Linked DNA regions of Homo sapiens. The main gene of each other region encodes a partner of the protein of the gene in region 3 in a complex. Each region holds a gene or a part of one and is shown on either strand. Other genes may lie near its edges.

Region 1 (6,669 bases), on a different chromosome or scaffold from region 3:
GAGTCTCATCCCTGTCCATTTCTCCTTGCAGACGGTGGGCAAGAGCAGCAAGATGCTGCAGCATATTGATTACAGGATGAGGTGCATCCTGCAGGACGGCCGGATCTTCATTGGCACCTTCAAGGCTTTTGACAAGCACATGAATTTGATCCTCTGTGACTGTGATGAGTTCAGAAAGATCAAGTGAGGAGTGGACTGTGGGGGGCGGAGACTGGAGGATGGGAATGGATTGAGTGGGTGGGCCAAGCAATAGAGGTGGTGATGTAGCTAGTTGGTTCTTCTCTGTTTATTCTCCAGTTTTAGAGGGCAGACTTAAATGGGGACATTGAACGCTAAGAAATCTTTTTGAGTCCAGCAAACCTTGCTCTCTAGTCTAGCAAAGTACAAGTTGTGAAGGGCTGCTAGGCTTTTTGTTTCTCTCACTTTGCGTGCCCCTGGGTACTGGGGTAAAGGGCTCTCATGTTCTCCCCACAGGTGTGTGAGGGGGGAGAGCTTGAGTTTCTGGCCTCATTGCCTATTTGTAAAGCTGTAGCCTAAAGGGCTCTCCCAATGCAGCCTGGTCTGAAACTGCTTTAAGAAGCCTCTGACCCTCTTCAGGGTAAGTGCTCAGCTCCCCATGTGGGTTTGGGGCCAGTGATTTTTGTTGGCATTTATACAAACAATTGGAGATATTGTCTACTTTGCTACAATTCCGTAAGTTATTGGCTAACTCCCTTGCCTTGAGTCTCACAGATCTTAAGCTTTTGGCCCATTAAAAGATATGATTTAGCTTCCCATCATGTTTTACATTCAAGGCTACTTGAGGCACAAAAAGATGATGTGACTTCCGTGGCCAGCAGCTCTTTTGTCATATGCAGTGTCCATATTATTCTGTCACTCACTTTGAATTCCCTTTGATTCTCCTTGGGGCTGATTTCTTCTGTGACCCAAGGTCAAGAAGTATAGTTTAAAAATGTGGTAGGGATGCCTTGGTGCCAGGTACGTATTAGAGAGGGGCCAACAGATGAGCGTGGAGCTACTCCAAAGTTCCCTCCTGATTATAAAAAATGTTTATTGGAAAATATTTTTGAAAATACAAAGAAGTCTATGAATAGAAACTAAAATACCCCGAAGGGTTTTTTTCTAATTATGAAAGGACAATACATGGTTATTATTTTAAAAAATAAGAAAATGTGAGCCAAAAAAGGGAAAAACTGTCCATCCACAGACAACCAGTTAATATACTGTAAAATATCAAAACAAAATCTTTTGAGTTCTTTTTTTAAATCAGGCTATTTTTTCCCCTTTATTTTTAGGATCTAGCTTTAGCTTTTTTCCCCACTTTCCTATCCTGTTGCAGTTATTTTTCCTACTTCACATTTATATTTTGTTCATCTTTTTCTGGTTGTTGCTTTTTGGGGGTTTCTGTTTTTATGCTTTTGAGGAACAGATATGAAATTTCAATTTCTGTGTATGTGAAATTTCTCTTAACCTTTTCCTTCTATGGCTTCTCCTATTTCTGATGTAAGATGAGGGGCAGAATTATAGGCCTGTGAGGTTGAATTGATATTAGAAGGACACTGCACGTAAGTGAGGTGGGTGGGAGTCATTTGATTGGAATTGTTTAGGCAGCCTCCTGATGTTGGCAAGACCTTAAGCTGAAGGGAGGGAATAGGGTCCTAAGAAAGAAGACTTGGCTGAGGGAAGGGCCTTCACGGTTGCTGTGGAATAGCATTTGGGCCCGGGCTGGGCTTTGTTGACCTTGTCCTATCTCTTGGTCAGTGTGTCCTCTTGGCATGGTAGGAAACAGGTAGATAGCCACCTAAGAGGTTATGTGTTCAGCCTGTAGAGACTATCCAGGAGGGCTATCTTGGGAAAGTTTGTGTACTGTTTGTTAGGAGATGCAGTATAAGCAAATCTTGGAGGCCACTAGGCAGGTGAACTTTACCCACCTCTAACACTTTTTTTGTTCCTTCTAAACCTCTCTTTAGGCCAAAGAACTCCAAACAAGCAGAAAGGGAAGAGAAGCGAGTCCTCGGTCTGGTGCTGCTGCGAGGGGAGAATCTGGTCTCAATGACAGTAGAGGGACCTCCTCCCAAAGATGTAAGTCAGAGCAGGAAGCCTTGTGGAGGAGGGGAGGCCCTACTGTGAGCCAGGCTCTGTGTTAGATTCTGTTTCATTGCAGTTCTCACAGGCATCCTCTGGATTTTGCCCCCTTTTTCAGATAATAAATGAAATCTTAAAGAGGTTACCCTGCAAGAGGCCGGGCGCGGTGGCTCACATCTGTAATCCCAGCTCTCAGGGAGGCAAGAGGCGGGAGGATAGCTTGAGCCCAGGAGTTCGAGACCTGCCTGGGCAATATAGCGAGACCCCATTCTCCAGAAAAAGGAAGAAAAAAAAAAAGACAAAAAAAAAAAAAAGAGGTTACCCTGCAAGAAAGAAGTGGAAAAGGGGAACTAGAATTTGGGTATCTCAGACTTTAAAGCTCTACCTGTTTCTCAGTTGATGTACATAGTGAGTCAGTGGAGGAAGCACCTGAAGCCATCTGGGTCAGTTCTTAATGTGACGACAAAGCCTAGGTAGACCTTAAAAAGTTGTAACTCCGAAACAATAGGAAATGTGTGTATTTTGTTTTGTACAGTTACAGTTCATAGTTACTGAGAATCTACCTTGCGCCAACCACTTCAGTATTTTATTTGATCCTTTAGGTCTCTTTAGAGATAAATTCTCATCTTATAAATAGAATAAACCAGGGCTTAGTAACTTGCCCAAGGTGCCACAGCCACTAAGTGGTGAAACTGACATTTGATCTCAGACAGTCTTGATTCTGTAAACACCAAGCTACACATAGAAATAGAGCAGGCTTTAGAGACCTAGTCAAATTTGTTTTCCCTTTCCCTTTTTCATTTGAAGGGTTTTTTTTTTTTTTTTTTTTAGATTTTTAGATGGAGTCTCGCTCTGTCGCCAGGCTGGAGTGCAGTGGCACGATCTTGGCTTATTGCAACCTCTGCCTCCCGGGTTCAAGTGATTCTCCTGCCTCAGCCTCCCGAGTAGCGGGGATTACAGATGTGAGCCACCACGCCCTGCCAAGACGTTATTTTAATCAAAAGAGAATAATCCTTTTAACTTTTTAAAAATCCACATATATTATCTGGATTTTTTTGTACTTAACACATAGTGGGCATATATTATGTTGTTCTGTGTTTTCACTTAATGTTAACATTTTTCTAGTTGCTCAACACTTTTAAAGTCAAGTTAATGACTGAGATTTTCTCAAATGAGTACAGAGTAGTTTATCCTAATCATTTTCTTTTTTGGAGATTTTTACGTTTTTGCCTTTTCCAGTTAAAAATGTCTGCAAGGGATGTTAGCATATCTTGGTTCAAAGTCCATGTACATATTCAAATCTCTTAGTACCTACTTCCAGTAGAATTGGCTGGTCTAACATAACCCATCATAAACCTTTGTGATCACAACCAGTTGTACCATAACCATGTCATTTGCAGATAAGGCAACTCAGCCCGGGATTGTGGGATTATTTGTCCATTGTCACCTAGCGGATTAGAATCAGCTGGGAATGGATCTCATGTCCCTTTAATGCCTTGCCTGCTGAACCCTGAGTGGAACCCTGGCCCTTTGCTCTTGGTTTAACTTTCACAGGAGTGCATATAGGTGGTTGAGTTGTGGCATGTTTCTCTAGACTTACTCTTAAGTTCTACCCTGCTTCAGGGATAACTCATAGTCTTGGATGGAGGAAGAATGGTGTTGGCACACATGGAGAGGTAGTATTTATAAGCTATTTCGATAGTATTTATAAGCTATTTCGAGGGGCTCTCTTGGCAATGATATTCCAAAGTATACTTCTGATCTTCAGATCACTGGGCATCAGAGCATATTTGTTTATTTTTCAGACTGGTATTGCTCGAGTTCCACTTGCTGGAGCTGCCGGGGGCCCAGGGATCGGCAGGGCTGCTGGCAGAGGAATCCCAGCTGGGGTTCCCATGCCCCAGGCTCCTGCAGGACTTGCTGGGCCAGTCCGTGGGGTTGGCGGGCCATCCCAACAGGTGAGGAGTTGGGGAAAGGGTACCACCTCCTGGTGGCTAAAATAAAGGATAAAGGGGAGGGTCCATAGTTTTAAAAGGGTCCAGAGTGACCAACCTGTGATTGTCAGACTATCAGTGTTTCACTGTGGTTTATACATGGCCCTAGAAGCAAGTGAAAAGGATAAGTTGCCATTGTAAATTATGTTGATGCTATTAAAGAGATGTACGAATTAGCCAACTGTATTTAAGGAAAATATTTCCATGACAGCATTTGAAATCATGAGTCATATTTGAAAATGCAGTTGCCTTCTCTCACTTGGATTGGACATGCTTACATTCAGGTCTAGAAGATGGGAGTTGGGCATTCAAGCTTGATCTTTCCCGACATGTGGTTTTGGATGGGAAGTCTGGTGCTGAGAGTTGTAGCATTAAGGGATTTGGTGTCTGTTATTTCCCACTGTCCTTCCCCAAGTTGGGGAGGAGAGTGGGAAGCTGCATTGTACTGTACTCTTCTAACTCTTTCTTCTTATGTCCTCTTAGGTGATGACCCCACAAGGAAGAGGTACTGTTGCAGCCGCTGCAGCTGCTGCCACAGCCAGTATTGCCGGGGCTCCAACCCAGTACCCACCTGGCCGTGGGGGTCCTCCCCCACCTATGGGCCGAGGAGCACCCCCTCCAGGTGAGGAGCCCATAAGGAGACCAGTGCTAATTGATAGAAGATGCCTTAGCTGGATTAATGATGAGATATAACCTTGACTGAAGCTGATGATGAGTTTGTATAATTAAGCAGGATTACTCTGAGATCCAGCGTGGCTGACTGATGAGACTAGGTGGACAAGAGCCATTGGGAGCCCTGGGTGTTAGGCTCAAATGTCAGTTTTCTGGGAGCTGCTGAGAGGGTGGAATGGTCCATCTATCTCAGAACTTGGTGGAAAGCTTTGTAGTTTTTTTGCTACCTTTTCAAGATAGACACTTGAGCTATATTCTTGGGGCTTTTCTCTTGCAGGCATGATGGGCCCACCTCCTGGTATGAGACCTCCTATGGGTCCCCCAATGGGGATCCCCCCTGGAAGAGGGACTCCAATGGGCATGCCCCCTCCGGGAATGCGGCCTCCTCCCCCTGGGATGCGAGGTAAGTGCCTGCAGTGGTGACTTTGGCTTCTTTCCCTAGAGCCTAGTGGGATAGGAAATGGAGGGAAGATTGCATTTAGATCATATCCCATGGGCTTTCAAGCCTTAAATCTAGGGAAATCCAGAAAGGAAAGAGAAGAGGGAACATTTCTTAAATTGGGCTTACCTCCCCTCTTAGAAAAGTTAGAGCAGCCATGCACCCAGGGTGTTTCTCAATATCTAAGGCAGCGGCCTCAGGACACAATGAAATAATGCATTCTGAGGATCCCTAACAGAAGTTATGAGATTGTCTTATGCTCTTTGGTTTGACAGTGCCTAGTAATTAAGAGGGGGCTCTGGGCTTTGCTGTACTATTATGGATTTCTCTTTAACTTCAGTTGGAGAAATTCTGAGATCAGTCCCCACATGGATGAGAAAATAGGCCCCCAGGGAGTTTGGACTCCAAGCCCAGTGTTCTTTCCCTATAAGATAACCCATGGGCAAACTTGGTGACCCCTGTTTCTCTAGTCTGGATTATTCCTCTATGGGTTTTTATAGACATAGGAACCCAGTCAGCCTCAGAGTAGTCCCTAGTTAGCACATATGCCATGTATACCCCTCTCCTCACTCGATTACTGCAGGGCGTGGGAGGCTGGGGCAGGGTTGGGGATTCAAGTTGCAGATCAGGCACTGACTAAACTTCTTACTCTTACTTCAGGCCTTCTTTGACCCTTGGCCACAGAGTATGGAAGTAGCTCCGCAGAGGCGTGGGCTCGATTCCTCAGGGCCACGTTACCACAGACCTGTTTGTTTCTTATGCTGTTGTTCGTGGAGTCTCATGGGATTGTCTGGTTTCCCTTACAGGGCCCCCTCCCCCGGGAATGCGCCCACCAAGGCCCTAGACTCATCTTGGCCCTCCTCAGCTCCCTGCCTGTTTCCCGTAAGGCTGTACATAGTCCTTTTATCTCCTTGTGGCCTATGAAACTGGTTTATAATAAACTCTTAAGAGAACATTATAATTGCACCTATGGATCTTTATTTTTAGAAAAATCTTTGATATATTGGGTGCTTAATAGAGTCAAGAAGGGTTGCCTTGGAAAAAATTAACCCTGATCTTACCTTCTTCCCTATAAAATGTTTTACTACCCATTTGCATCTGTACATCCTCATACACTAAGATACTTACAAAATTGAACATTTTCACTTATCAGATTCAAAGATCAGTTTTGTTGAAATCAGTACCCATAATATCCTCTTGGGAAGGCACTTGTCTAGATAGCTTCTCCATGAAGCAAATGCTAAAAATGAAAATTCTGCTGGGAGAGGAACAATTTTGGCATAACTTTCTGCCAGGGTCACACACGTAACATATAACCTAACGTAACTTTTGAATTGTGGTATCTTCATGAGTTCTTCCACCCAAAGCCTGTGTTCACTGAGCAGCACTCTAGTACTTAGTGCATCAAGCTCTAAGGGTACAAAAATAAGGTGAACACTGTTGTAAAGTTACTGTGTAGGGGGAAGATAATTGTAAATG
Region 2 (7,889 bases), on a different chromosome or scaffold from region 3:
ATGGGAAACCTATACTCAGGGCCAACTAACAGAACAAAAAAAGAAACAGAAATGGGAAAAACTAATCAAGATGAGTTCCTATTGTTTGGGTGGCAACAATATCGAAAAAAAAGTCCACTAGCCGGGCGCGGTAGCTCATGCCTATAATCCCAGCACTTTGGGAAACCGAGATGGGTGGATCACCTGAGGTCAGGAGTTCAAGACCAGCCTGGCCAACTATGGTGAAACCCCGTCTCTACAAAAAACACAAAAATTAGCCAGGCATGGTGGTGGGTGCCTGTAATCCCAGCTATTCAGGAAGTTGAGGCAGGATAATTGCTTGAACCTGGGAGAAGGCGGTTGCAGTGAGCAGAGATCGTACCGCTGCACTCCAGCCTGGGCGACAAGAGCAAAACTCCCTCTCAAAAAAAAAAGAAAAGAAAAAAGCCCACTAATAGAACAAGCCACAAACTGGGAGAATATATTTGGTATACATAAAATCAACAGAAGATTTGTTTGCATTTTACATAAAGAAATCCCATAAAGCATGAAAAATATGAAATATGTCACAAGCACTAAAATAAACTAATTGTAATACAAATGTACCATATAGTTGTGTGTTTCGTTTTTTTTTTGTTTTTTTTTTTTTGAGACGGAGTCTCGCTCTGTCCCCCAGGCTGGAGTGCAATGGCGCGATCTCAGCTCACAGCAACCTCCGCCTCCCGGATTCAAGCAATTCTCCTGCCTCAGCCTCCCGAGTAGCTGGGACTACAGGCACAAGCCACCACACCCAGCTAATTTTCATACTTTTAGAAGAGACGGGGTTTCACCATGTTGGCCAGGCTGGTCTCGAACTCCTGACCTTGCGATCCACCCTCCTTGGCCTCCCAAAGTGCTGGGATTACAGGCGTGAGCCACTGCGCCCGGCCACAAATGTACTACGTAGTTTAAAGAGTGGCTGGGTGAGTGGCTCATGCCTGTAATCCCAGCACTCTGGGAGGCAGAGGCAGGCGGCTCACCTGAGGTCAGGAGTTCAAGGCCAGCCTGACCAATATAATAAAACCCCATCTCTACTAAAAAATACAAAAATTAGCCGGGCATGGTGGCATGCACGTGTAATCCCAGCCTACTTGGGAGGCTGAGACAGGAGAATTGCTTGAACCTGGGAGGCAGAGGTTGCAGTGAGCTGAGATCGTGCCATTGCACTCCAGCCTGGACAACAAGAGTGAAACTGTCTCAAAAAAAAAAAAAAGAATGTACATGTGTATCTATAAATCTACCACTTGTCAAAAACTTGAGTGGGTCTCAGATCTTACCCTACTCGCAAGCTAACAAGTTAGCCTGTCACAGTTTTATGAATGCTGATGGAAAGCATGTGACTACCTGGCCTGAAATAAAGGACAGTTTATTAGAGCAATGACAGTAGCCGGAATATAGCATTGGTGTCAGTTTTCCAAGTGAATTCCCACAAGGCAAAGTGAGGAGAACCCATGCACACAGTGAGCTGCCTTACAGGAGACGAACCCCGTGCTTAGAGAATCTGAACCATTAACCATTTTTTCAAACGAGGTCTCGCTCTGTTGCCTATCCTAGTCTTGAACTCTACCTCATCCTATAGAGTAGCTGCGATTACAGGTGTGAGCCACCACACCCTGCCCCAAATCTTTTATAAGGGATTGTGCCCTTGTCTCCTCGTTTTGTAGGGAGACACCATTTCTATCTTCCAAGGCTGCTCACTACACGAACATCCTTAACGAGAGTCCAGGAGAAAAGGCAGTCAGGCAATGGTCGCAGTACGTGCACAAACTCAAGAGACTAATGGAAAATTGTCTCCAGACTTTATTCAGCTTAAAAAGTGCTACATAATCCATACTTTAGTAGAGGTGCCTATTGCTCAAGCATTCTGAATATCTTGATTACAGAAATTACAAGACCTTAGATGTAAAAACTGAAGGAAAGCCGTGCACGGTGGCTCACGCCTGTAAACCCAGCACTTTGGGAGGCCGAGGTGAGTGGAACACTTGAGTCCAGGAGTTCGAGACCAGCCTAGGCAACATAGCGAGACTTGCTTCTCTTAAAACGCAAAAAAAAAAAAAAAAATTCTTTTTTAAAATGGAAGGAAGTAACACTTGTAAAATCAGCACTGAGCCCCCACATCGGGCATTCGATAAAGGGAAGCTGCTGTTGTTACGATTTTTGCAGTTAGAAATACCATACGTTTGGCCGGGCACGGTGGTTCACGCCTGTAATCCCAGCACTTTGGGAGGCCGAGGCGGGCGGATCACGAAGTCAGGAGATCGAGACCATCCTGGCTAACACGATGAAACCCCCTTCTCTACTAAAAACACAAAAAATTAGCCGGGCGTGGTGGCGGGAGCGGTGGTGGGCGCCTGTAATCCCAGCTACCTGGGAGGCGGAGGTAGGAGAATCGTTTGAACCGGGGAGGCAGAGGTTGCAGTGAGCCGAGATCGCGCCACTGCACTCCATCCTGGGTGACAGAATGAGACTCCATCTCAAAAAAAAAAAAAAAAAGAAAAAAGAAATACTATACGATTATTGAGAAGGGTACTGTCTTCATCAGAACAAGTCGAACAGCAGAATCGTCGAGTCTGGATCCCTCCTCTTCTCCACCCCAACCCCACCCCTCCCCCAACTCCGGCGCAGTGACCTAGCGGAAGATTAGAGACAAGAAAAAAGGACGCGAAAAAAACAGGCTCTCGCGCCTAGCCCGGCCCGGCCCCGCGCACCTCGCACCTCCCGCTCAGGCTCCGAGTCCTCATCGACCTCGCGCTCCCGCTTCACCCGCACAAACGGGACAACAGAAGCCGGGGCCTCGCGCGCGCTCGCCGGCTCGAACTCCCGCTTCACGCGCACAGGGCTGCCCCGGGAGCTCGCCGCCTCAGGCTCCCGCTCCCGATCTCGCTCCCGCTTGACGCGACCGGAGCTGCCCCGCGACTCAGACTCTCGCTTCCCGCGAGTGGAACCGCGAGACTCCCGCTTAGACCGGCCGGACATCTCCACTACCGGCCGAGTCGTCCAGCGCAGGCGCCAAGCACGCTCGAGCGCGCGGCACAAGGCCAATCAGGAGAGGGGCTGGTAGCGAGCCCCGAACTCTCTACGAGTCGCCACTGGGGACAAATCACGCTGCAGAAAATTTGTGGGCGGTGCTGTTCCTGCACTGGCTTCCTCTCCCCTTAGAACCTTCTGTGGGCCTACTGTCGTTTACAGTTTACTGAGACGGGAACCTTTACTGGCGACAGTTTTCTGGATAAAAGCTGTCAGGCCGGGCGCGGTGGCTTACGCCTGTAATCCCAGCACTTTGGGAGGCCGAGGCGGGTGGATCACCTGAGGTCGGGAGTTCGAGACCAACCTGACCAACATGGAGAAACCCCGTCTCTACTAAAAATACAAAATTAGCCCGGCATTGTGGCGCATGCCTGTAATCCCAGCTACTCGGGAGGCTAAGGCAGGAGAATCGCTTGAACCCAGGAGGCGGAGGTTGCGGTGAGCCGAGATCGCGCCATTGCACTCCAGCCTGGGCAACGAGCGAAACTCCGTCTCAAAAACAAAGAAGCTGTCATTCGGCCCCAGATTTGTGCCTCGAAACCACCACCGTGAGGTCGTTTCCCACAGTCTCCGCGGCTTGGGGGCTGACAATCCTGCACAGGAAAACTAGGCGACATTCCCAAATCATCCCCTTGACAGCCCTAATTCTACTTTTAGAAGGTTCTTGGTACCATGAAAACGCAAATGCCCGGTAAAGGCAGATTTACCATGAAGCTAATAAAGCTCTAACCTCAGGACCTGCCTTGAACTTGTTTGCTTGTTTGAACCGTTCCATTGAGGTATAATTGACATACAACAAACTACATGTTTAAAGTGTGCAATTTAGGCCAGGCGCTGTGGCTCATGCCTATAATACCAGCACTTTGGGAGGCCAAGGCGGGCGGATCACCTGAGGTCAGGACTGGAGACCAGCCTGGCCAATATGGTGAAACCCCATCTCTACTAAAAATACAAAAATTAGCCGGGCGTGGTGGCACGAGCCTGTTAACCCAGCTACTTAGGAGGCTGAGGCAGGAGAATCGCTTGAACCCGGGAGGCGGAGGTTGCAATGAGCCGAGATCGCCCCATTGCACTCCAGCCTGGGCAACCAGAGTGAAACTCTGTCATACCCACACCACACCACACCACACCACACCACACCACACCACACCACACCACACCACACTGTGTGCAATTTACTGAATTCTGACTTGCGGTATATGTCAGAGGCGTTTCAACCAGACCAACTCCATCTTGAGTGAGGGTTAGGAAAATGAGGCTGGGCCTTGACAGGCTGCATTCCCAGGAAGTTAGGTATTCCTAGCCTAGAGATGTCTACAGTTAAGGGAACAGAGAGATAATGTTTACTAAACAGATCCAGACTTGGGAGTGTCCTAATATCCCAATATCTGGAGAATAAAGGCATTCCTAATTTTGCTTTAAAGATAATATTTCTTCTTGCAAAATATAATAATAAAATTAATCCTTTATCACAAACCCTTGTAGCAGAGCACATCTCCCCATGATCTTTTTATCCTATATATAAACAAGCATTGTAGCCATGGTGGATGCGTTCCTCCTTTTACTTTCAGGAACGCCCTATTCTGTCAATGGAGTAGCTGTACTTTCACTACTTTACATTTTATTTTTTTGATACAGAGTCTTGCTCTGTCACCCAGGTTGGAGTGCATTGGTGAGATCTCGGCTCACTGCAACTTCTGCCTCCTGGGTTCAAGTGATTATCCTGCCTCAGACTCCTGAGTAGCTGGGATTACATGCACCTGCCACCATGCCCGGCTAATTTTTGTATTTTTAGTAGGCACAGAGTTTCACCATGTTGGCCAGGCTGGTATGGAAGTGCTGACCTCAAGTGATCCGCCCGCCTCCCCTTCCAAAGTGCAGGGATTACAGGCATAAGCCGCGACACCTGGCTACTTTACTTTCTTAATAAACTTGCTTTTACTTTGCACTGTGGACTCACCCTGAATTCTTTCTTGCACAAGATCCAAGAACCCTCTGCTGGGGTCTGAATAGGGATCCCTTTCCTGTAACATATACACCCATGAAGCCATCACCACAATCAAGAGACGGGATCTGGGCCCAGTACGGTGGCTCACACTTATAATCCCAGCACTTTGGGAGGCCTGAGGCAGGAGGATCACTTGAGGTCAGGAGTTCAAGACTAGCCTTGGCAACATAGAGAGACCCCCCCCATCTCCACAAAAAAATTTTAAAATTAGCTGGGCATGGTGGCATGCTATTCAGGAGGCTGAGGCAGGAGGATCGTTTGGGCCTGAGAGGTGGAGGCTGCAGTGAGCAGTGATTGCACCACTACAATCCAACCTATGCGACAGTGAGATCCTGCCTCAAAAAAATAAAAAAATAAAAAAAAATTTAAAGAATCTACCCAGCCCCAAAGATATCCTCTTCCTCCCAGAGAACCCCCACAAAAATCAACTGATCTCTCGGTCACTATAGATTAGTTTGCACTTCCTAGAGTCTCATATAAATGGAATCATACAGAGTCCCTGGCCTCTTTCACTGGGCATATTTATTTTATGATCCATCCATGTTGTTGAGCTACAGATCTTCCTTTGGATTGCTCAGTAATATTCCATCGTGTGGCTGGACCACCATTGGTCCCTGTTTTTTGTTTTTGTTTTTTGTTTTTTGATTTGGAGGTTGGACTGCAGTGGCTCGATCTCGGCTGACTGCAACCTCCGCCTCCCGGGTTCAAGCGATTCTCCTGCCTCAGCCTCCCAAGTAGCTGGGATTACAAGCACCGGCCATCAAGCCCAGCTAATTTTTTGTATTTTTTTTTAGTAGAGACGGGGTTTCACCATTTTGGCCAGGCTAGTCTCGAACTCCTGACCTCTTGATCTGCCCGCCTGGGCCTCCCAAAGTGCTGGGATTACAGGCGTGAGCCACCACGCCCGGCTCTTTCTTTCTTTTTTAATGTATTTTTTTCTTGTAGAGACGATGTCTCGCTGTGTTGCCCAGGCTGGTCTCAAATTCCTCCCTCCAGCGATACTCCCACTTCGGCATCCCAAAGTTTTGGAATTACAGACATGAGCCACTGCATCCAGCCGTTTGTCCCTGTCCTAATCATGAATTCCTGATTTTGACTTTTGTAAAAGGACTTGAGAATTTTACACGCTGTGACGTGAACCCAGTGGTCAGAAAAAATAGAAAAAAAAAAAAAAGGGGCCGGGCACGGTGGCTCATGCCTGCAATCCCAACACTTTGGGAGGCCGAGGCAGGCGGATCACCTGAGGTCAGGAGTTCGAGACCAGCCTGGCCAACGTGGTGAAACCTTATCTCTACCAAAAATACAAAACTTAGCCGGGCGTGGTGGCACGCGCATGTAGTCCCAGCTACTCGGGAGGCTGAGGCAGGAGAATCGCTTGAACCCGGGAGGCGGAGGTTGCAGTGAGCCGAAATCACGCCAATGCACTCCAGCCTGAGCGACAGAGTGAGACTCCTTCTCAAAAAGAAAAAAAAAAGGAAAAATAAATAAAAAAGAAAATAATACACCCGTAGGTCCCTCAAAAACCCTGGGTCCTCCCGCGGGGACAGTTAAGCCATCGGCGCCGTGAGCAGGAGGCAAGCCGGGCCAGGAGAGCCTTCGCGGCGCCTGCGGCCTGGGCGCCGCTGTTGCCCTGCCTGAGCACTTCAAGGCCTCACAATCCATTTGAGGTAGGTGCTCTAGGTGTTCCCATTTACTAATGAGGAAACTGAGAAGTGGCAGCGTTACACAGTCAGCCAAAGTCACGCAGATGGCGATGGATTGCACAGCATCCTATTACCAGAAAAAAGATGGGAAGGCACCGCCGTAAGCATCGAGTTGTGTTATAGATGATTTGCATTTTTCTGAAGGTTCTGGTATCAGCTGTAAGCCGAAGTCCTTGTTTCCTATTGATATGTTACGAAAAAACAAACAAAAAAAAACAAAAACAAAAGCCCTCCGTCCGGGGGGTGGAAGTCAAGCATACCCTACTCCACCCGACCCGACCAGACCCGAAAACTCCGTGCGCTGCATCGCTTGGCCAGGCCGGGGCCTCCCAGACCGGAAGTCAGGATGCGGGGCCGGAAGCTGAGCAAGGGGCGGCGCGGAGCTCTGTGGGCGGGTGGCTGTTGTTGGGGCCGTCGAGGCGGCGGCGACTCTGCGTCCCCGGCTCCTGATGGAGGCGGGGCCGCATCCCCGGCCGGGGCACTGCTGCAAGCCTGGGGGGCGGCTGGACATGAACCACGGCTTCGTGCACCATATCCGACGGAACCAGATCGCTCGGTACCGCCCCGCCCTGCGCCGCCGCCGCCACCACTCCTGGCCTGGCCTGGCCCGGCCCGACAGTCCCTGACTCCCGCTCGGCTCCCCGCAGGGACGACTATGACAAGAAGGTGAAGCAGGCGGCCAAGGAGAAGGTGAGGAGGCGGCACACGCCCGCGCCGACGCGGCCCCGCAAGCCAGACCTGCAGGTGTACCTGCCGCGACACCGAGGTGAGGCCGCCCGCCCCGCCTGCCTCCAGCCCGCGCGCTCTTCCTGCAACGCACTCCCCTTCTCTATAGGGAAAAACCACTTCTTACTCCTAAGGTTCAGCTCATCTCGTCTCTTTCCGGAACCTCCACCTCAGCGCTCCCAAATCTCCGCTGAATGATTCTCACCAAGAACTGGGACGACTCATAAGCCCCCAGTTAAGCATCGCTGTCAGAGTATCGGGGAGCCAGCAAGAAGTTTATCTGCCGGTTTGCCCCACCGTGCTGTATTTTAGTAAGGTGCTCCGCTACCTAGCAAAGAGAAAGTCTGGCACAGCGATGAGCGACCAGCACATAATTGCGGAATGAACCCAGTAAATGGCCTTTCCCC
Region 3 (7,513 bases):
AGGCGGAGCCCCAGATCCCCATTATACCAGCAAGGAGGGACCTCATGCCTTCCGGCAAATATGCATGTGTAAGACCACTAAACAGTGCTGAACCTGCCCTCTAACCCCACCTTCTTCAAAGACCCCTTCAGATGGCCTCTTTCCCCCAAACCCTATCCTCAGCCCCATACTCACCCTTCTTGATGGCATTAACCTCCAAGGGTTTCAGCCCCAACTTTGCCCGGAGTTTGCTGACAACAAGAGATACAAGTGTTAGGGGCTATTAAAGACACAGGGTGCCATGTGCATTTCCAGACAGACAAGAGGAGAAACAGGGTGGGAGTGAGTGGTCCCAAACACAAAGTCTGCCCCAGGCAGCCTAGGACACTGGGAAGGGCCCTGGCCTCCAAAGCAGGAAACATGGGCACCAGCCTGGTCTGCGTCTAACCAGTGAATGCCACTTTACTCTTAGGTTTTAGTTTTCTCTTCTATAAGTCAACTGTTGGCTAAGATGATTTAAACAATCTTTCCAACTCTGATTAGCACACTTTCATGTGAGAAAGCCTCCCCCGTGCTGGCCCCAGAGCCACCTCTCTTAGAAAAACAAAGTAGAAACAAGGGAGACAGTACTCACTTAGTCTCCTCGATGCTGAGTGAGGAGGCATCGCCTGAGCTAGTTTTGGAGCTGGCAGCTGGAACAAGAAGAAGCATGGCTCAGGAGCTGAACACAGGGCCAAGAAGCCAGCATCGTTGGCTCCAGCTGCAGGAACAAAAATGAGGGCCCCTCACCAGCACCTGGGCCTGCTGAAACACCAGAAAACAGCAGCTTCTTCCACCCAAGCTCCCCAGCAGCTCCTCTGCCCGAGTCCAGTCTCAGAGCCCTGCCTCTTCTGTGCACCTTCCTTTCCTGACCCAAGACATCCAAACTGCTGTAGTCACCACTCTGCCCTCTACTTTTTTCTTTCATTTTTAACAGACAAGGTCTGGGCCGGGTATGGTGGGTCATGCCTGTAATCCCAGCACTTTGGGAGGCCGAGGCAGATGGATCACGAGGTCAGAAGTTCAAGACCAGCCTGGCCAAGATGGTGAAACCCCGTCTCTACTAAAAATATAAAAATTAGCCAGGCACGGTGGTGCGCACCTGTAATCCCAGATACTCGGGAGGCTGAGGTAGGAGAATTGCTTGAACCCAGGAGGCAGAGCTTGCAGTGAGCTGAGATCGTGCCACTGCACTCTAGCCTGGGCAATGGAGCAAGACTTTGTCTCAAAAAAACAAAACAAAACAAAAAAAAAACTCTTCCTTTCCTGCATTCCCATCCTGCATCCTACCTTCTCCTTTATCTTAAAGGCTTCTCTCTCCACCTGGGCCATGGATCCCAACCTCTCCAGGCTCCCCAAGGTCACCAGCCTCCTCGTTTCTAAATCTAGTGGGTTCTTTTCGGTTCTGGTTTTGCTTGATCTCCTGTGGTATGTGGGACTGCTGATCGCTCCCTCCTTCTAACAATACTCTCTTCCCAAAGTTCCCATGACACAAAGGTTTTCCTGCCTTTTTGGTTACTCTGTCTCCTTTTTTTGGTAACATCTTTCTCTGCCTACTACTAACATAAGGGCATTTCTCAGGTTCTAGTCCTGACCCCCTCTTCTCATGTCACAGTCTTTCAGGGGCTTCACTGGCCACCCAGATACTGACTCCCAATGGCTTTATCCAGTCCAAACTCTGGATTTCCCCATTACCATCAACCTTGACAACCCCAAAAGTGAACTATCTCCCCCCACCCCCGCTCCAAATCTGCTTCTCTTCCCTACTCCTCAATTTCAGTAGAAATGACACCCACTACCTATCTGGCTGCTCAAGCCAAAATTCAAGGAGTCATCCTCCATTCCTTCTTCCCACCCTCATACAAGTGCTGAGTTCTGTTCATTCCTCCTCCAAAACACCTCTCCAACCTGTCCACTTCTCTCAATCCCACTGCTGCTGCCTTGGTGCAGGCCACCATCAGCCCTCCCCTGGCCTATAGCCCTCCTGGTTTCCTGGTCTCCAGTCCTGACTACCTTTGACTAAATTCTCAATCCAGTGATGTTTACAAAATACGGATCTGAGCAACTCACTCCTCAACTCACATCCATGGCTCCCTACTATCCTCAAGACAATCTACAGTTCTTAACAGAGACTACAGTACAGGGTCCTTTGTGTTCACATCCCTGTCTATCTTACTCCCTCATTTCTCTACCATGCGCCCTACACGATTCGTCCAATACCAGGTTTTTCTTGCCTCTGTATATGCTGACACTACTTCATTCACTCATTCAACATATTTATTGAGAATCTGATTGTACCAGACAACTGAGGAAAACAGAAGCCCTCTGTCCTCAAGCAGCTGAGTGGAGAAAGTCAACCTCTAATCCTAAACAACCGTAGAAAGACTTTTTTCTTTTTGAGACAGAGTCTCGCTTTGTTGCCCAGGCTGGAGTACACTGGCGGGACCGCAGCTCACTGCAGCCTCTAACTCCTGGGCTCAAGGGATCCCGTAGAAAGACTATTTAATAGAGCTGGTAAACAGCTTGGGGGTTTCCTGGCCTGAAGAGCTTCGCTGACACTGCGCGCACACCCAGACCCACGCGTTCCGGGACCCCCGCCCGACCCGCCCCCTGCGCAGGCCCCGCCTCCTCACCGGCCTCGTAGCCGTCATCGCGCTTCTCCCGCTTCACGCGCCGCTCGGAGGGCTCTGCCTGGCTGCGCTCCCGCCCGTGCGTGCTGCTCCGGGCCTCAGCTTCGGCCCCGCGCCGCCCGCTCCCGCGCTCGCCCCCACGTTCCCGGCTCCGCTTCCGTCGTTCGCCACCGCTACCGCCACTGCCGCCACTCCGGTGCTTGTGTTTTTTGTGTTCCCGGTGCCGCGGCGGCTGCTCGGTGGCACCCCCGGTGCCGGCCGCCGCCGTCGTCCCGGCCGCCTCCTTCTCTCCGCGATGCTTCTTGGACGACCCCATAGTGGCACGTCCACTCCGAGCCCGGCTGCCGCCGAGCCCAGACAACGCAAAATGGGAATACTTCCGGGTCGCTCGGCAGCCGCTGTCGTGTTGCCGGAAACTAAGAGCGGCTGCTTCCGTCGCTCGCCTTGGAGCCTGCCCCAGAGGCTCATGGGAAGGCCGGGATCAGCGCTCGACTGCACATTCGCGCCGTCTCGGGTCGGGTGGGTTCTTTGAGCGAGTGGTCCCATTGCGCATGCGCTCCTCAAGGGAAGCGGAATTAACCCGGAGGTGGGATCCCAGAACTGGAAGGACTTAGAGCCCATTAAGTCAGTGTCTTCGTGGCTTTAAGTTCCTCCCCGGCCTCCCTGCGCTTGCACTTCACCGGCAACGGGGTGTTCACTACCTCACGGTCTTTCCGTAGACACCTCCCTCCTACAATGGGCGCTCGCTTAGTGGACTCCTAGGGTCGTGGCTCCAACGGGTGTTGTTTTCCCGAGATCTCCAATTCCACAGCCCAGCTTCAGACCCGCTATAACCAGTATCGTCAGGGAACGCTTCCTTCCCACGTTCCCTGTTTTGTTTTGTTTTGTTTTTTCCCTTGAGATAGGATCTCACTCTGTTGCTCAGGCTGGAGTGCAGTGGCGTGATCACAGCGCACTGCAGCCTCGACCTCCTGGGCTCAAGTGATCCTCCCACCTCAGCCTTCCCAGTAGCTGGGACTACGAGAGTACGCTACCACGCCCCTTTAATTTTTGTATTTTTTTGTAGATGGTTGGTGGGGAGCGGGGGTAGGGGGTGGGGTCACTATGTTGGCCAGGCTGGTCTCGAACTCCTGAGCTCAGGCTATACACCCGCCTTGGCCTCCCAAAGTGCTGAGATTACAGGCATGCGCCACTGCGCCTGGCCCTGGATTGGATTTTTAAAACCTGGCCCCGTGAACTGTTAAGATTGTTTAGGAGCTCCACATGGGCGTCAGTGTATCCCTGGAACCCCTGAAATTGAATGCAAAATGTGGCACATCTGTGTGTATGAGTTTTTTTCTTGAGGAGACCAGCCCTAACTTAAAACTATTGGGACTTAAAACCCCAGTGCAGGCCGGGCGCGGTGGCTCACGCCTGTAATCCCAGCACTTTGGGAGGCCAAGGCAGGCGAATCACGAGGTCAAGAGATCGAGACCATCCTGGCCTACATGGTAAAACCCCGTCTCTACTAAAAATACAAAAATTAGCTGGGTGTGGTGGCGCACACCTGTAGTCCCAGCTACTCAGGAGGCTGAGGCAGGAGAATCGCTTGAACCTGGGAGGCAGAGGTTGCAGTGAGTTGAGATCACACCATTGCACTCCGGCCTGGTGACAGAGCGAGACTCTGTCTTAAAAAAAAAAAAAAAAAGCGCAGTGCACACAATCCCAATCTCTCCTGAAACCCCTCCCCTCACCCAGTGGTTGCTCAGTCTGTGGCTCCCTGTGTGGCACAACTCAGCATGTGTTAGGCTATGTTGTATGCGCCCCTTTAAGGATCCACCCCCTCTCCCACTCACTGGGCGTCCTCAGAGGCAGGAGTCATTTCATCTTATTCATGCTTGAATTTATAGGACCCAACATATACATTGGAGATGGGGTGGAGAAGTCACAGCTCTTGCTCTTTGAGATGTCCCCACTCCTCAGGAGCAGAGAAGGGGCTGTGTGTACTGGGTGGGGGGAACCAAAAGAGCCAAAGCTCCTGGTGGGGAGGGGGTGCGGGGACAGAGCTAAGCCTGCTGCCCACCCACCTGCCACCTCCAACTTCCAACCCGTAGCTTCCACCACCCCCACCACCAGAAATCTCATACTGTGTTTGCCATAAAGCCTTTAATTTTATCTCAGGGACTGCACTCCGGGTCCAGGCTGGGGTTGTAGTGCCTGTCAGGCTGGCTGCCGGTGGGTTCTGTCCTTGGGGGCCTCTGAGGAGAGTGCTCCATTCTCACCCCCATTGACCTGTGGCTCCTTCAAGACACAGATAGAGGCCCCTGACTCTGCAGCTCCCACCCCCATGCCCAAGGAAACCACTGACAATGTGGCTTCAAACCCTGCTTCAGTGCCGGCTTGCTGTGTGATCCTGGGCAAAGTGACTCTTCTCGAGTCTCACTTTCCTTATTGTCAAGTGGGCTTCATAATCGCTGCTCTGTACCAGGTTATTCTAAGGCATGGGGTGACCAGCGTGGTGGTGCCAGCCCCTAATGAGGGACTTGGTGTGTGGCCGCTCAGATGGTTGCAGAGTCCCAGACTGGTTCTGCTGCTTGTTCGCTCCTGCGTCCTTAAAGAAGGCCCTTCCCCTCAGGTCCTTAGTTTCCTCATTGAGAAGTAGGAATGACAACCCTGGCCTTGCCTTCCTCTGGGCTCTCTGCCTGTCCTGGGGGAGGCCCTCCAGAGCCCAGAGTGCTGGTGTGGGCGCCCCTTCCCGCAGCAGCATGGCAGAGTCAGTTCTTGACCTGACGGGGAGACTCACCTGGGTTTCCTGGGGGTGCCCTCTCTGTCCACCTTTCCTGCCTCAGACAGCAGCTGCTCCTCATCCAGCCCCAGTGCTGACAGCACCTGGGAGAAGCGCCGAGTGACGGTGAGCCGGGCATTGGCCTGAGGAGAGAGAAGACGGCTTCCTGCTCTGCACCAGGGCTGCCGAGGGCAAGGTGGGGATCGGGTTACTGAGGGGGTCCCAGGGATTCCAGAGGGCAGCAGCCCTGGGATCCTATCTGCAGGGACCTACTCGCATCCTGCTTCCCTACCCACTCAGCCAGCTCTTCACAGGGGGCAGCTATGTGCTTGCCCAGGTGCCAGCCTCACCTGCATAGCCTGCTGGAACAGGAAGGGCCGGGCCTGCACCCTGTGCTGGATGCCTTGCAGCTCCGCCTGGTACTCAGCAAAGCGCTGTCGCTCCTGGCGCCTGCAGGGGAGACAGGCCTTTGTGCAGCTAACCATGGACACAACTGTTGATCTCCATTCCTGAGCCCGCTTATCTTCACTAAGGACTTGATATTCATGTCCTCACCCTCACCTTTACAAAGCTATTTCATTCCCATTCTTGCCTGGATTCCTTGTGAAGTCAGCCAAGGTGGAAATTATTCACCCAATTTACGGATGGATCGGGAGGGTTGAGGGACTTGTTCAAAGTTGTGCAGCTGGGAAGTGAGGGGCCGAGCCCTGTGCAGCTGGGGCTTGCCCATCCTCCTGTGCCAGCCCCATGGGAAAGGGGCCAGTGCTGGCTTCTGAGCTTCCAGACACGTGCTTACATAGCTTCCCCTCCCCATCCTCTTTCCCTTGAGGGGGAGCTGTGGTTGTTGGTTGTGTGACTTTGGGTGAGGCCTCTCTCTGGGCTCTTGGCTCTGGGCTCAGTTTATTTCACTGTGCTATAGTAGGGATCGGACAAGCTTGCCAGCATTCTCTGTGGTTCTTGTAAGCAGACAGCTTGGAAAATGGGACAGAGAAACTAAAAAAAAATATGTTTCAAATTTAAAAAACACACCCCTGAGAGATCAGGGTTCCACTGGGGAAGCACAATTTTCATTTATAAAAACCCAATTTGGCCAGGCGTGGTGGCTCGCACCTGTAATCCCAGCACTTTGGAAGGCCAAGGAGGGTGGATCACTTGAGCCCAAGAGTTTGAGACCAGACTGGGCAACATGGTGAAATCCTGTCTCTACAAAAATTAGCCAGACATGGTGGTATGCACCTGTAGTCCTGGGTAGTTGGGAGGCCAAGGTGGGAGGATCGCTTGAGCCTCGGAGGTCTAGGCTACAGTGAGCTGAGATTGTGCCACTGCACTCCAGCCTGGGCAACAGAGCAAGACCCTGTCTCAAAAAACCCAAAACCCAGTTTGTGCACTTGTCAGAAATGTGTCTGTTTGACAAACTTGAGTATCACTGCCACTCATGAAGAGAGCACTCTAGCAGCAAGAGGGACCTTCGAGCCACACCCACATGGGACCAGGCATCCATCTGTGAAGCATGTAAGAGAGGCCTTGAGGTGTGGAGGCAGCACCCATGGACAGGAGGGGAGGGAAGACGCAGACAAGAGGACAGGAGGGGAGGGGAGACACAGACAAGACCCCAAGACCTGTACTGGGACCTCAGCGATTGTGCTGGGCCCGGTGGAAAAACTCAGCCTTGCTGGGCCATGCCACCCTTGCTGTGGCCCTGTGCCAGGGAAGGAACCATCCTTCATTGAGAAAAAGACATGGACTTGAAAACCCATGGCCCGGAACACAAGTTACTGCAAAAACGGCTTTCACCATTTAGGAAGGAATTTATGGCAGTTACAAGGGGAGGTGGGAAATGAGCTGGCAGTCCCTATCTTTTCTGTGATATTGTGTGCACTTTTCCTGCTGGATACTTTATGCTATTTCTGTTAGAAGTGACAGGAGCTGGCCGAGGCGGGCAGATCTCGAGGTCAGGAGATCGAGACCATCCTGGCCAACATGGTGAAACCCTGTCTCTACTAAAAATACAAAAGTTAGCTGGGAGTGGTGGCGTGCGCCTGTAATCCCAGCTACTTGGGAGGCTGAGGCAGGAGAATCGTCTGAACTGGGGAGTTGGAGG
Region 4 (7,021 bases), on a different chromosome or scaffold from region 3:
ATTTTTGTATTTTTACTAGAGACGGTGTTTCACCATGTTAGCCAGGCTGGTCTTCAGCTCCTGACCTCAAGTGATTCGCCCACCTCAGCCTCTCAAAGTGCTGGGATTACAGGCGTGAGCCACCATGCCTGACCCTTCCGTAATTTTTGAATTTTGAATATATCACCTATTCAAGAAAAAATGTTAAAGACAAATGTTTAAAAATATCTTGAAGCAGTTTAAGAACAGGTCTGTTTTGCAAAATGTAAGAGGAGTTGTTTGGCCATACCCTCAAAGCTTATCATTCTGAACTTCTTTAGGACAGAAGGGGTTTATAGAGACTAGGGAGCAGGTCTTTGCACCATCGTCTCTTGTTTCCCAAACTAGTAGTTCAAGTACTAATATCATGATTTTTTAAAAAAAATTAAGTATAGGCTGGGTGCGGTGGCTCACACCTGTAATCCCAGCACTTTGAGAGGCCGAGGTGGGCGGATCACGAGGTCAGGAGATCGAGACCATCCTGGCTAACAGGGTGAAACCCCATCTCTACTAAAAATACAAAAAATTAGCCGGGCGTGGTGGTGGGCGCCTATAGTCCCAGCTACTCGGGATGCTGAGGCAGGAGAATGGCATGAACCCGGGAGGCAGAGCTTGCAGTGAGCCAAGATCGCACCACTGCACTCCAGCCTGAGTGACAGAGCGAGACTCCATCTCAAAAAAAAAAAAGAAAATTAAGTATAATATTTTGTGTAGGTTCTGTTAGGTTTGCATGCATTATTTAAGTGGTTAACACTAGACCTGTAAGGTAGGTACTGTTTTCTTCCCCCTTCTAGACACTTAGGAGGTTTAGAGACTAAGTTCCTTATCCAAGATAACAAAGGCATTAAGTGGCAGAGTTAAGATTCAAACTCAGGTTTCTCTGACTCCAGAGTCTCAATCATCACACTATATTACTACCTAATATGCTAATCTTGCTTTAGGAACATGGGTTGAAAAATTCCAGTGCTCACTTATCTTGACTAAATTTTTTGCACTGTGGTGCAGGCAGAATGTGGTATAGTCATTCAAAACATTTTAAGTGTCTAGACCTGAGAGCCTTGTGGGTTTAAAAACCTGAATGGGAGAAGTAAGAAGGAGAAATTAACAGTTTTTCAATTTTTTTCCTGGAGAGCAGATCAAACAGATGATGGAGGCAGCAACACGACAAATCGAGGAGAGGAAAAAACAGCTGAGCTTCATTAGCCCCCCTACACCTCAGGTATTGTGTCTAGATTACTCTGAACAGAATAATCTTTGGCACAGAATTTCTTGCCATCCACTCAAAATGAGAGACTAGAAGAGGTGACTACATGTTTCACTTCATAATCATCTGCTACAGTCTACCATGATGTGTGTGTATATCTGTGTGTATGTATGTGTGTTTGTCTGCCTGTCTTAATTCCTCTGATTTCTTTTTCTCTATCTCACAGCCAAAGACTCCTTCTTCCTCCCAACCAGAACGACTTCCTATTGGCAACACTATTCAGCCCTCCCAGGCTGCCACTTTCATGAATGATGCCATTGAGAAGGCAAGGAAAGCAGCTGAACTGCAAGCTCGAATCCAAGCCCAGCTGGCACTGAAGCCAGGACTCATCGGCAATGCCAACATGGTGGGCCTGGCTAATCTCCATGCCATGGGCATTGCTCCCCCGTGAGTGTCTATTTCATGGAATACCTTTTCATTTCTGAAGTTTGAGAAGCAATAAATACCTTTGAATGTTACTGATCTGGCTGGGCGCAGTGCCTCAGGCCTGTAATCGTAGCACTTTGGGAGGCTGAGGTAGGTGGATCACCTGAGGTCAGGAGTCAGGAGTTCGAGACCAGCCTGGCCAATATGGTGAAAACCCATCTCTACTAAAAATACAAAAATTAGCCAGGCGTGGTGGTGCATGCCTGTAATCCCAGCTACTCGGGAGGCTGAGGCAGGAGAATCGCTTGAACACAGGAGGCAGAGGTTGCAGTGAGCTGAGATCGTGCCACTGCGTGGGTGACAGAGGGAGACTCCGGCTCAAAGAAAACAACAAACAAAATATTACTGATCCTCTTTTTCCACAGAACCTAGATCATTTCTCACAGTTTCATATTTCTTAGGTGTGATTGATTAACCAGTTGAATTTTTTCTCGTCTTCCCTGTTGGAGGGTTTATTATCTTCTTATGATTTATATAACTGAGATTAAGGTTATTCATCTAATGTTGGAGCTAGGAGTATAGCCAGGTTTCCTTCCTGGTTTCAAACTCAGATTTATCCATTAAACCACATTGTGTGAGACTAGATCTGAGGTTCCTCTGCAACTGGTCAAAGATGTTACATTTTTTTTAGCATCTACAGTTGGTCTGGCATCCCATGAGTGACATAAGAATTCAGGGATAAGGAAAGATAGGATTATAAATTCATATAATTTATAAACTCATTTCATTTGGTTGTCCTGTATACTGAAATATCCACTTTGATATTTTTAATCAAGATACTATTGGCAGGGCGCGGTGGCTCACACCTGTAATCCCAGCACTTTGGGAGGCCGAGACTGGCAGATTGCTTGAGCTCAGGAGTTCAAGACCAGCCTAGGCAACATGGCAAAACCCCATCTCTCTAAAATATACAAAAATTAGCCAGGCATGGTAGAGCATGCGTGTAGTTCCAGCTACTTAGGAGGCTGAGGTGGGAGAATTTCTTTGGGCCTGGGAGGTTGAGGTTGCAATGAGCTGTGATTGTGCCACTGTACTTTAGCCTGGGCAGCAGAGTGAGACCATGTCTCAAAAAAAAAGATGGTATTGCTCACTGATGAGATTGTTCCCTAGAATTATTTTATTGTCCTTTTTGTTGTTGTTGTTGTTGAGAGGGAGTCTCACTCTGTCACCCAGGCTGGAGTGCAGTGATCTCGGCTCCCTGCAACCTCTGCCTCCCAGGTTCAGTAGCTGGGACTACAAGTGCCCGTCTAAATTTTGTATTTTTTGTAGAGATGGGGTTTCACTGTGTTGCCAAGGCTGGTCTTGAACTCCTGGGCTCAAGCCATCCACCCGCCTCAGCCTCCCAAAGTGCTGGGATTACAGTGTGAGCCACCACACCCGTCCATCCAAATAACTCTTATAGAGAAGGCACTGCAGCCTCAACTTCCTGGGCTCAAGTGATCCTCCTCAACCTCCTGAGTAGGTGGGACCACAGGTATATGCCACCGCACCCAGCTAATTTTAAATTTTTTGTTGAGATGCAGTCTCCTTGTGTTGGCCAGACTGGTCTTTAACTCCTGGGCTCAAGTGATCCCTCTGCCTTGGCCTCCCAAAATGCTGTGGTTCCAGGCTTGAGCCACCACGCCTGGCTTTATTTTGTTTTTTGCTTGCCTTAATGTTCCATACAGGATTTATTTCTTTGCGGGCTATTTTTCAGGAAGGTGGAGTTAAAAGACCAAACGAAACCTACACCACTGATCCTGGATGAGCAAGGGCGCACTGTAGATGCAACAGGCAAGGAGATTGAGCTGACACACCGCATGCCTACTCTGAAAGCCAATATTCGTGCTGTGAAGAGGGAACAATTCAAGCAACAACTAAAGGAAAAGCCATCAGAAGACATGGAATCCAATACCTTTTTTGACCCCCGAGTCTCCATTGCCCCTTCCCAGCGCCAGAGACGCACTTTTAAATTCCATGACAAGGGCAAATTTGAGAAGATTGCTCAGCGATTACGGACAAAGGTATCTGGCTTAGAGTATAACACAGAATTTGGAAAAAGTTAAGAAGCTGACAAGAAAACATTGTTAAATCTCTGTGTTCTAGGAAATTAGATAAATAGGTCATTTAAAGCAGCAGTCCTCAACCTTTTTGGCACCAGGGACTTGTTTCATGGAAGATAATTTTTCCCCTGGAGTAAGGATGGTTTCGTGATGGTTCAAGCACATAGCATTTATTGTGTACTTTATTATTATTATTTTTTTCGAGATGGAGTGTCGCTCTTGTTGCCCAGGCTGGAGTGCAATGGGGCGATCTCGGCTTGCTGCAACCTTTGCCTCCCAGGTTCAAGTGATTCTCCTGCCTCAGCCTCCCGAGTAGCTGGGATCACAGGCATGTGCCACCACGCCTGGCTAATTTTGTATTTTTGGTGGAGACGGGGTTTCTCCGTGTTGGTCAGGCTGGTCTCGAACTCCTGACCTCAGGTGATCTGCCCACTTTGTCCTCCCAAAGTGCTGGGATTACAGGCGTGAGCCACCGCCCCCGCCTTTTTTTTTTTTGGGCGGGGAGGGGGATGGAGTCTTGCACTGTTACCTGGGCTGGAGTGCAGTGGTACAGTCTCAGCTCACTGCAACCTCTGCCTCCTGGGTTCAAGCAATTCTCCTGCCTCAGCCTCCTGAGTAGCTGGGACTGCAGGCATGCGCCGCCATGCCTGACGAATTTTTTGTATTTTTAGTAGAGACAGGGTTTCACTATGTTGGCCCGGCTGGTCTTAAACTCCTGACCTTGTGATCTGCCTGCCTTGACCTCCCAAAGTGCTGGGATTATAGGCGTGAGCCACTGTGCTGGCCTATTTCTATTATTATTTTATTGTAATATATGATGAAATAATTATATAACTCACCATAATATAAAATCACTGGGAGCCTTGAGCTTGTTTTCCTGCTGAAATGGTCCCATTTGGGTGTGATGGGAGACAGTGACAGATCATCAGGCATTAGATTCTCATAAGGAATGTGCAACATAGCCCCCTCACATGTACAGTTCACAATAGGGTTCGCGCTCCTCTGAGAATCTCATGCCACCGATGATCTGACAGGAGGTGGAGCTCAGGCCATAATGCAGGTAATAGGGAGCAATCGTAAGTACAGATGAGACTGTTGGCTTGCCTGCTGCTCACCTCCTGTTGTGCAGCCCAGTTCCTAAAAGACTGTTGGGTTGGGGACCCCTGATTTAAAGCAATGAATACTTTGAAAAATGTGCTGGACAAGATGGCTCAAGCCTGTAATCCCAGCGCTTTGGGAGGCCGAGGTGGGTGGATCACGAGGTCAGGAGTTCAAGACCAGCCTGCCCAACATGGTGAAACCCCGTCTCTACTAAAAGTACAAAAATTAACCGAGCGTGGTGGTGGGTGCCTGTAATCCTAGCTACTTGGGAGGCTGAGTCAGGAGAATCACTTGAAACTGGAAGGCAGAGGTTGCAGTGAGCTGAGATCGCACCACTGCACTCCAGCATGGGCAAAAGAGCGAAACTCCGTCTCAAAAAATATATATATATATTTATTAATATAATACATAATTTTTTTAGCAGATTTTACTTCCTAATTCGTTTCTACATAAGTGGAAATATTATGAAATTGAGTTTGAAAATTCTCCACATACAACTAAGTGGAGGGAAACAATTTGAAACATTCTGAGTGACTAAGGAAGGCTTGCCTGTAGTTAAAATTTAATGAGACAGTACACCTGGAGAGTTGAATTGATTGTATATTGAATGACCTTTGCCGCCTTTTTATCCTCTCAAAGTGAGGTTTTCATAAAATTCCTTTTTTTTTTTTTTTTGAGACGGAGTCTCGCTCTGTCACCCAGGCTGCAGTGCAGTGGCACGATCTCAGCTCACTGAAAGCTCCGCCTTCCAGGTTCATGCCATTCTCCTGCCTCAGCCTGCTGAGTAGCTGGGACTATAGGCGCCCGCCACCACGCCCGGCTAATTTTTTTGTATTTTTAGTAGAGACGGGGTTTCACCGTGTTAGCCAGGATGGTCTCGATCTCCTGACCTCATGATCCTCCCGCCTCGGCCTCTCAAAGTGCTGGGATTACAGGCGTGAGCCACCACACCCGGCCATAAAATTCTATTTCTGCGTATTTACTGCAGGCATATACTGTGGAGTGCAGGGAGGGGTTGAAGGTGAGATCTATGTATATGAACTAAATAAAGGATAAAATAAAGCAGAACAACTCCTTTCTAAGCTTTCAGAAATTATGAACTTGTTGCGTTAGGTGTAAAGAGTTCAACGGGGAAGTGTTTTAAAATTTGGGATTCTTGGCCGAGGTGGGCGAATCACTAGGTCAGGAGATCGAGACCATCCTGGCTAACATGGTGAAACCACTTCTCTACTAAAAATACAAAAAAATGAGCCGGGCGTGGTGATGGGCGCCTGTAGTCCCAGCTACTCGGGAGGCTGAGTCAGGAGAATGGCGTGAACCCGGGAGGTGGAGCTTACACTGCACTGCACTGCAGCCTGGGTGACAGAGTGAGACTCCGTCTACAAAAAAAAAAAAAAATATTTGGGATTCTGGCCGGGCACAGTGGCTCATGCCTGTAATCCCATCACTTTGGGAGGCCGAGGCGGGCAGATCACCTGAGGTCGGGAGTTTGAGACCAGGCTGAGCAACGTGGAGAAACCCCATCTCTACTAAAAATACAAAATTAGCTGAGGGTGGTGGCACATGCCTGTAATCCCAGCTACTGAGGAGGCTTAGGCAGGAGAATCGCTTAAACCTGGAAGGTAGAGGTTGCTGTTAGCCAAGACCATGCCATTGCACTCCAGCCTGGGCAAGAAGAACGAAACTCCGTCTCAAAAAAAAAAAAAAATTGAGATTCTACACATTCTGTTTTCTATGACTCCAATTTATCTTTCTGTCTTGGATTATCTTGTTTTTAGGCTCAACTGGAGAAGCTACAGGCAGAGATTTCACAAGCAGCTCGAAAAACAGGCATCCATACTTCGACTAGGCTTGCCCTCATTGCTCCTAAGAAGGAGCTAAAGGAAGGAGATATTCCTGAAATTGAGTGGTGGGACTCTTACATAATCCCCAATGGCTTTGATCTGTGAGTTTGTTTTAGTACCTTTTTAAAAAAACAGTTTTTAATCAGCTGAGTTTAAGACTCAAGTTAATACCTTTTAGTAAAGCTATGGTTTTAGTGGGAAGGATGGTACTCATTCATTAATTAAAATTTTTAAATCCAAGAGAGATAAGTAACTGTACACAAGGTCCTGTTATTTTTTTTTTTTTTTTTTTTGAGAGGGAGTCTCGCTCTGTCACCCAGGCTGGA

What was found.
Region 1: SART1 (region 3) and SNRPB share a complex: the UniProt entries of both Homo sapiens proteins name them as parts of the U4/U6-U5 tri-snRNP complex.
Region 2: SART1 (region 3) and USP39 share a complex: the UniProt entries of both Homo sapiens proteins name them as parts of the U4/U6-U5 tri-snRNP complex.
Region 4: SART1 (region 3) and PRPF3 share a complex: the UniProt entries of both Homo sapiens proteins name them as parts of the U4/U6-U5 tri-snRNP complex.

Annotation. Positions count from the first base shown.
Region 1 is NC_000020.11:2,461,121-2,467,789, reverse strand, and holds the end of SNRPB (small nuclear ribonucleoprotein-associated proteins B and B'), read left to right. Parts: intron 1-31; coding exon 32-183; intron 184-1,970; coding exon 1,971-2,082; intron 2,083-3,890; coding exon 3,891-4,043; intron 4,044-4,562; coding exon 4,563-4,701; intron 4,702-4,742; exon of another isoform or gene 4,743-4,838; intron 4,839-5,028; coding exon 5,029-5,154; intron 5,155-5,850; coding exon 5,851-5,861; 3' UTR 5,862-5,996; coding exon of another isoform or gene 5,997-6,034; 3' UTR 6,035-6,148; downstream 6,149-6,669. UniProt on the Homo sapiens protein: Plays a role in pre-mRNA splicing as a core component of the spliceosomal U1, U2, U4 and U5 small nuclear ribonucleoproteins (snRNPs), the building blocks of the spliceosome.
Region 2 is NC_000002.12:85,611,301-85,619,189, reverse strand, and holds the start of USP39 (ubiquitin carboxyl-terminal hydrolase 39), read right to left. Parts: upstream 3,005-7,889; 5' UTR 2,995-3,004; coding exon 2,727-2,994; intron 1-2,726. Other genes in the region: UPF0561 protein C2orf68, read left to right, coding at 7,206-7,312, 7,404-7,522.
Region 3 is NC_000011.10:65,957,232-65,964,744, reverse strand, and holds the start of SART1 (U4/U6.U5 tri-snRNP-associated protein 1), read right to left. Parts: upstream 3,012-7,513; 5' UTR 2,965-3,011; coding exon 2,652-2,964; intron 672-2,651; coding exon 614-671; intron 231-613; coding exon 175-230; intron 1-174. Other genes in the region: TSGA10IP (testis-specific protein 10-interacting protein), read right to left, coding at 4,805-4,928, 5,431-5,594, 5,763-5,862. UniProt on the Homo sapiens protein: Plays a role in mRNA splicing as a component of the U4/U6-U5 tri-snRNP, one of the building blocks of the spliceosome. May also bind to DNA.
Region 4 is NC_000001.11:150,331,531-150,338,551, forward strand, and holds part of PRPF3 (U4/U6 small nuclear ribonucleoprotein Prp3), read left to right. Parts: intron 1-1,153; coding exon 1,154-1,237; intron 1,238-1,448; coding exon 1,449-1,669; intron 1,670-3,404; coding exon 3,405-3,711; intron 3,712-6,629; coding exon 6,630-6,796; intron 6,797-7,021. UniProt on the Homo sapiens protein: Plays a role in pre-mRNA splicing as component of the U4/U6-U5 tri-snRNP complex that is involved in spliceosome assembly, and as component of the precatalytic spliceosome (spliceosome B complex).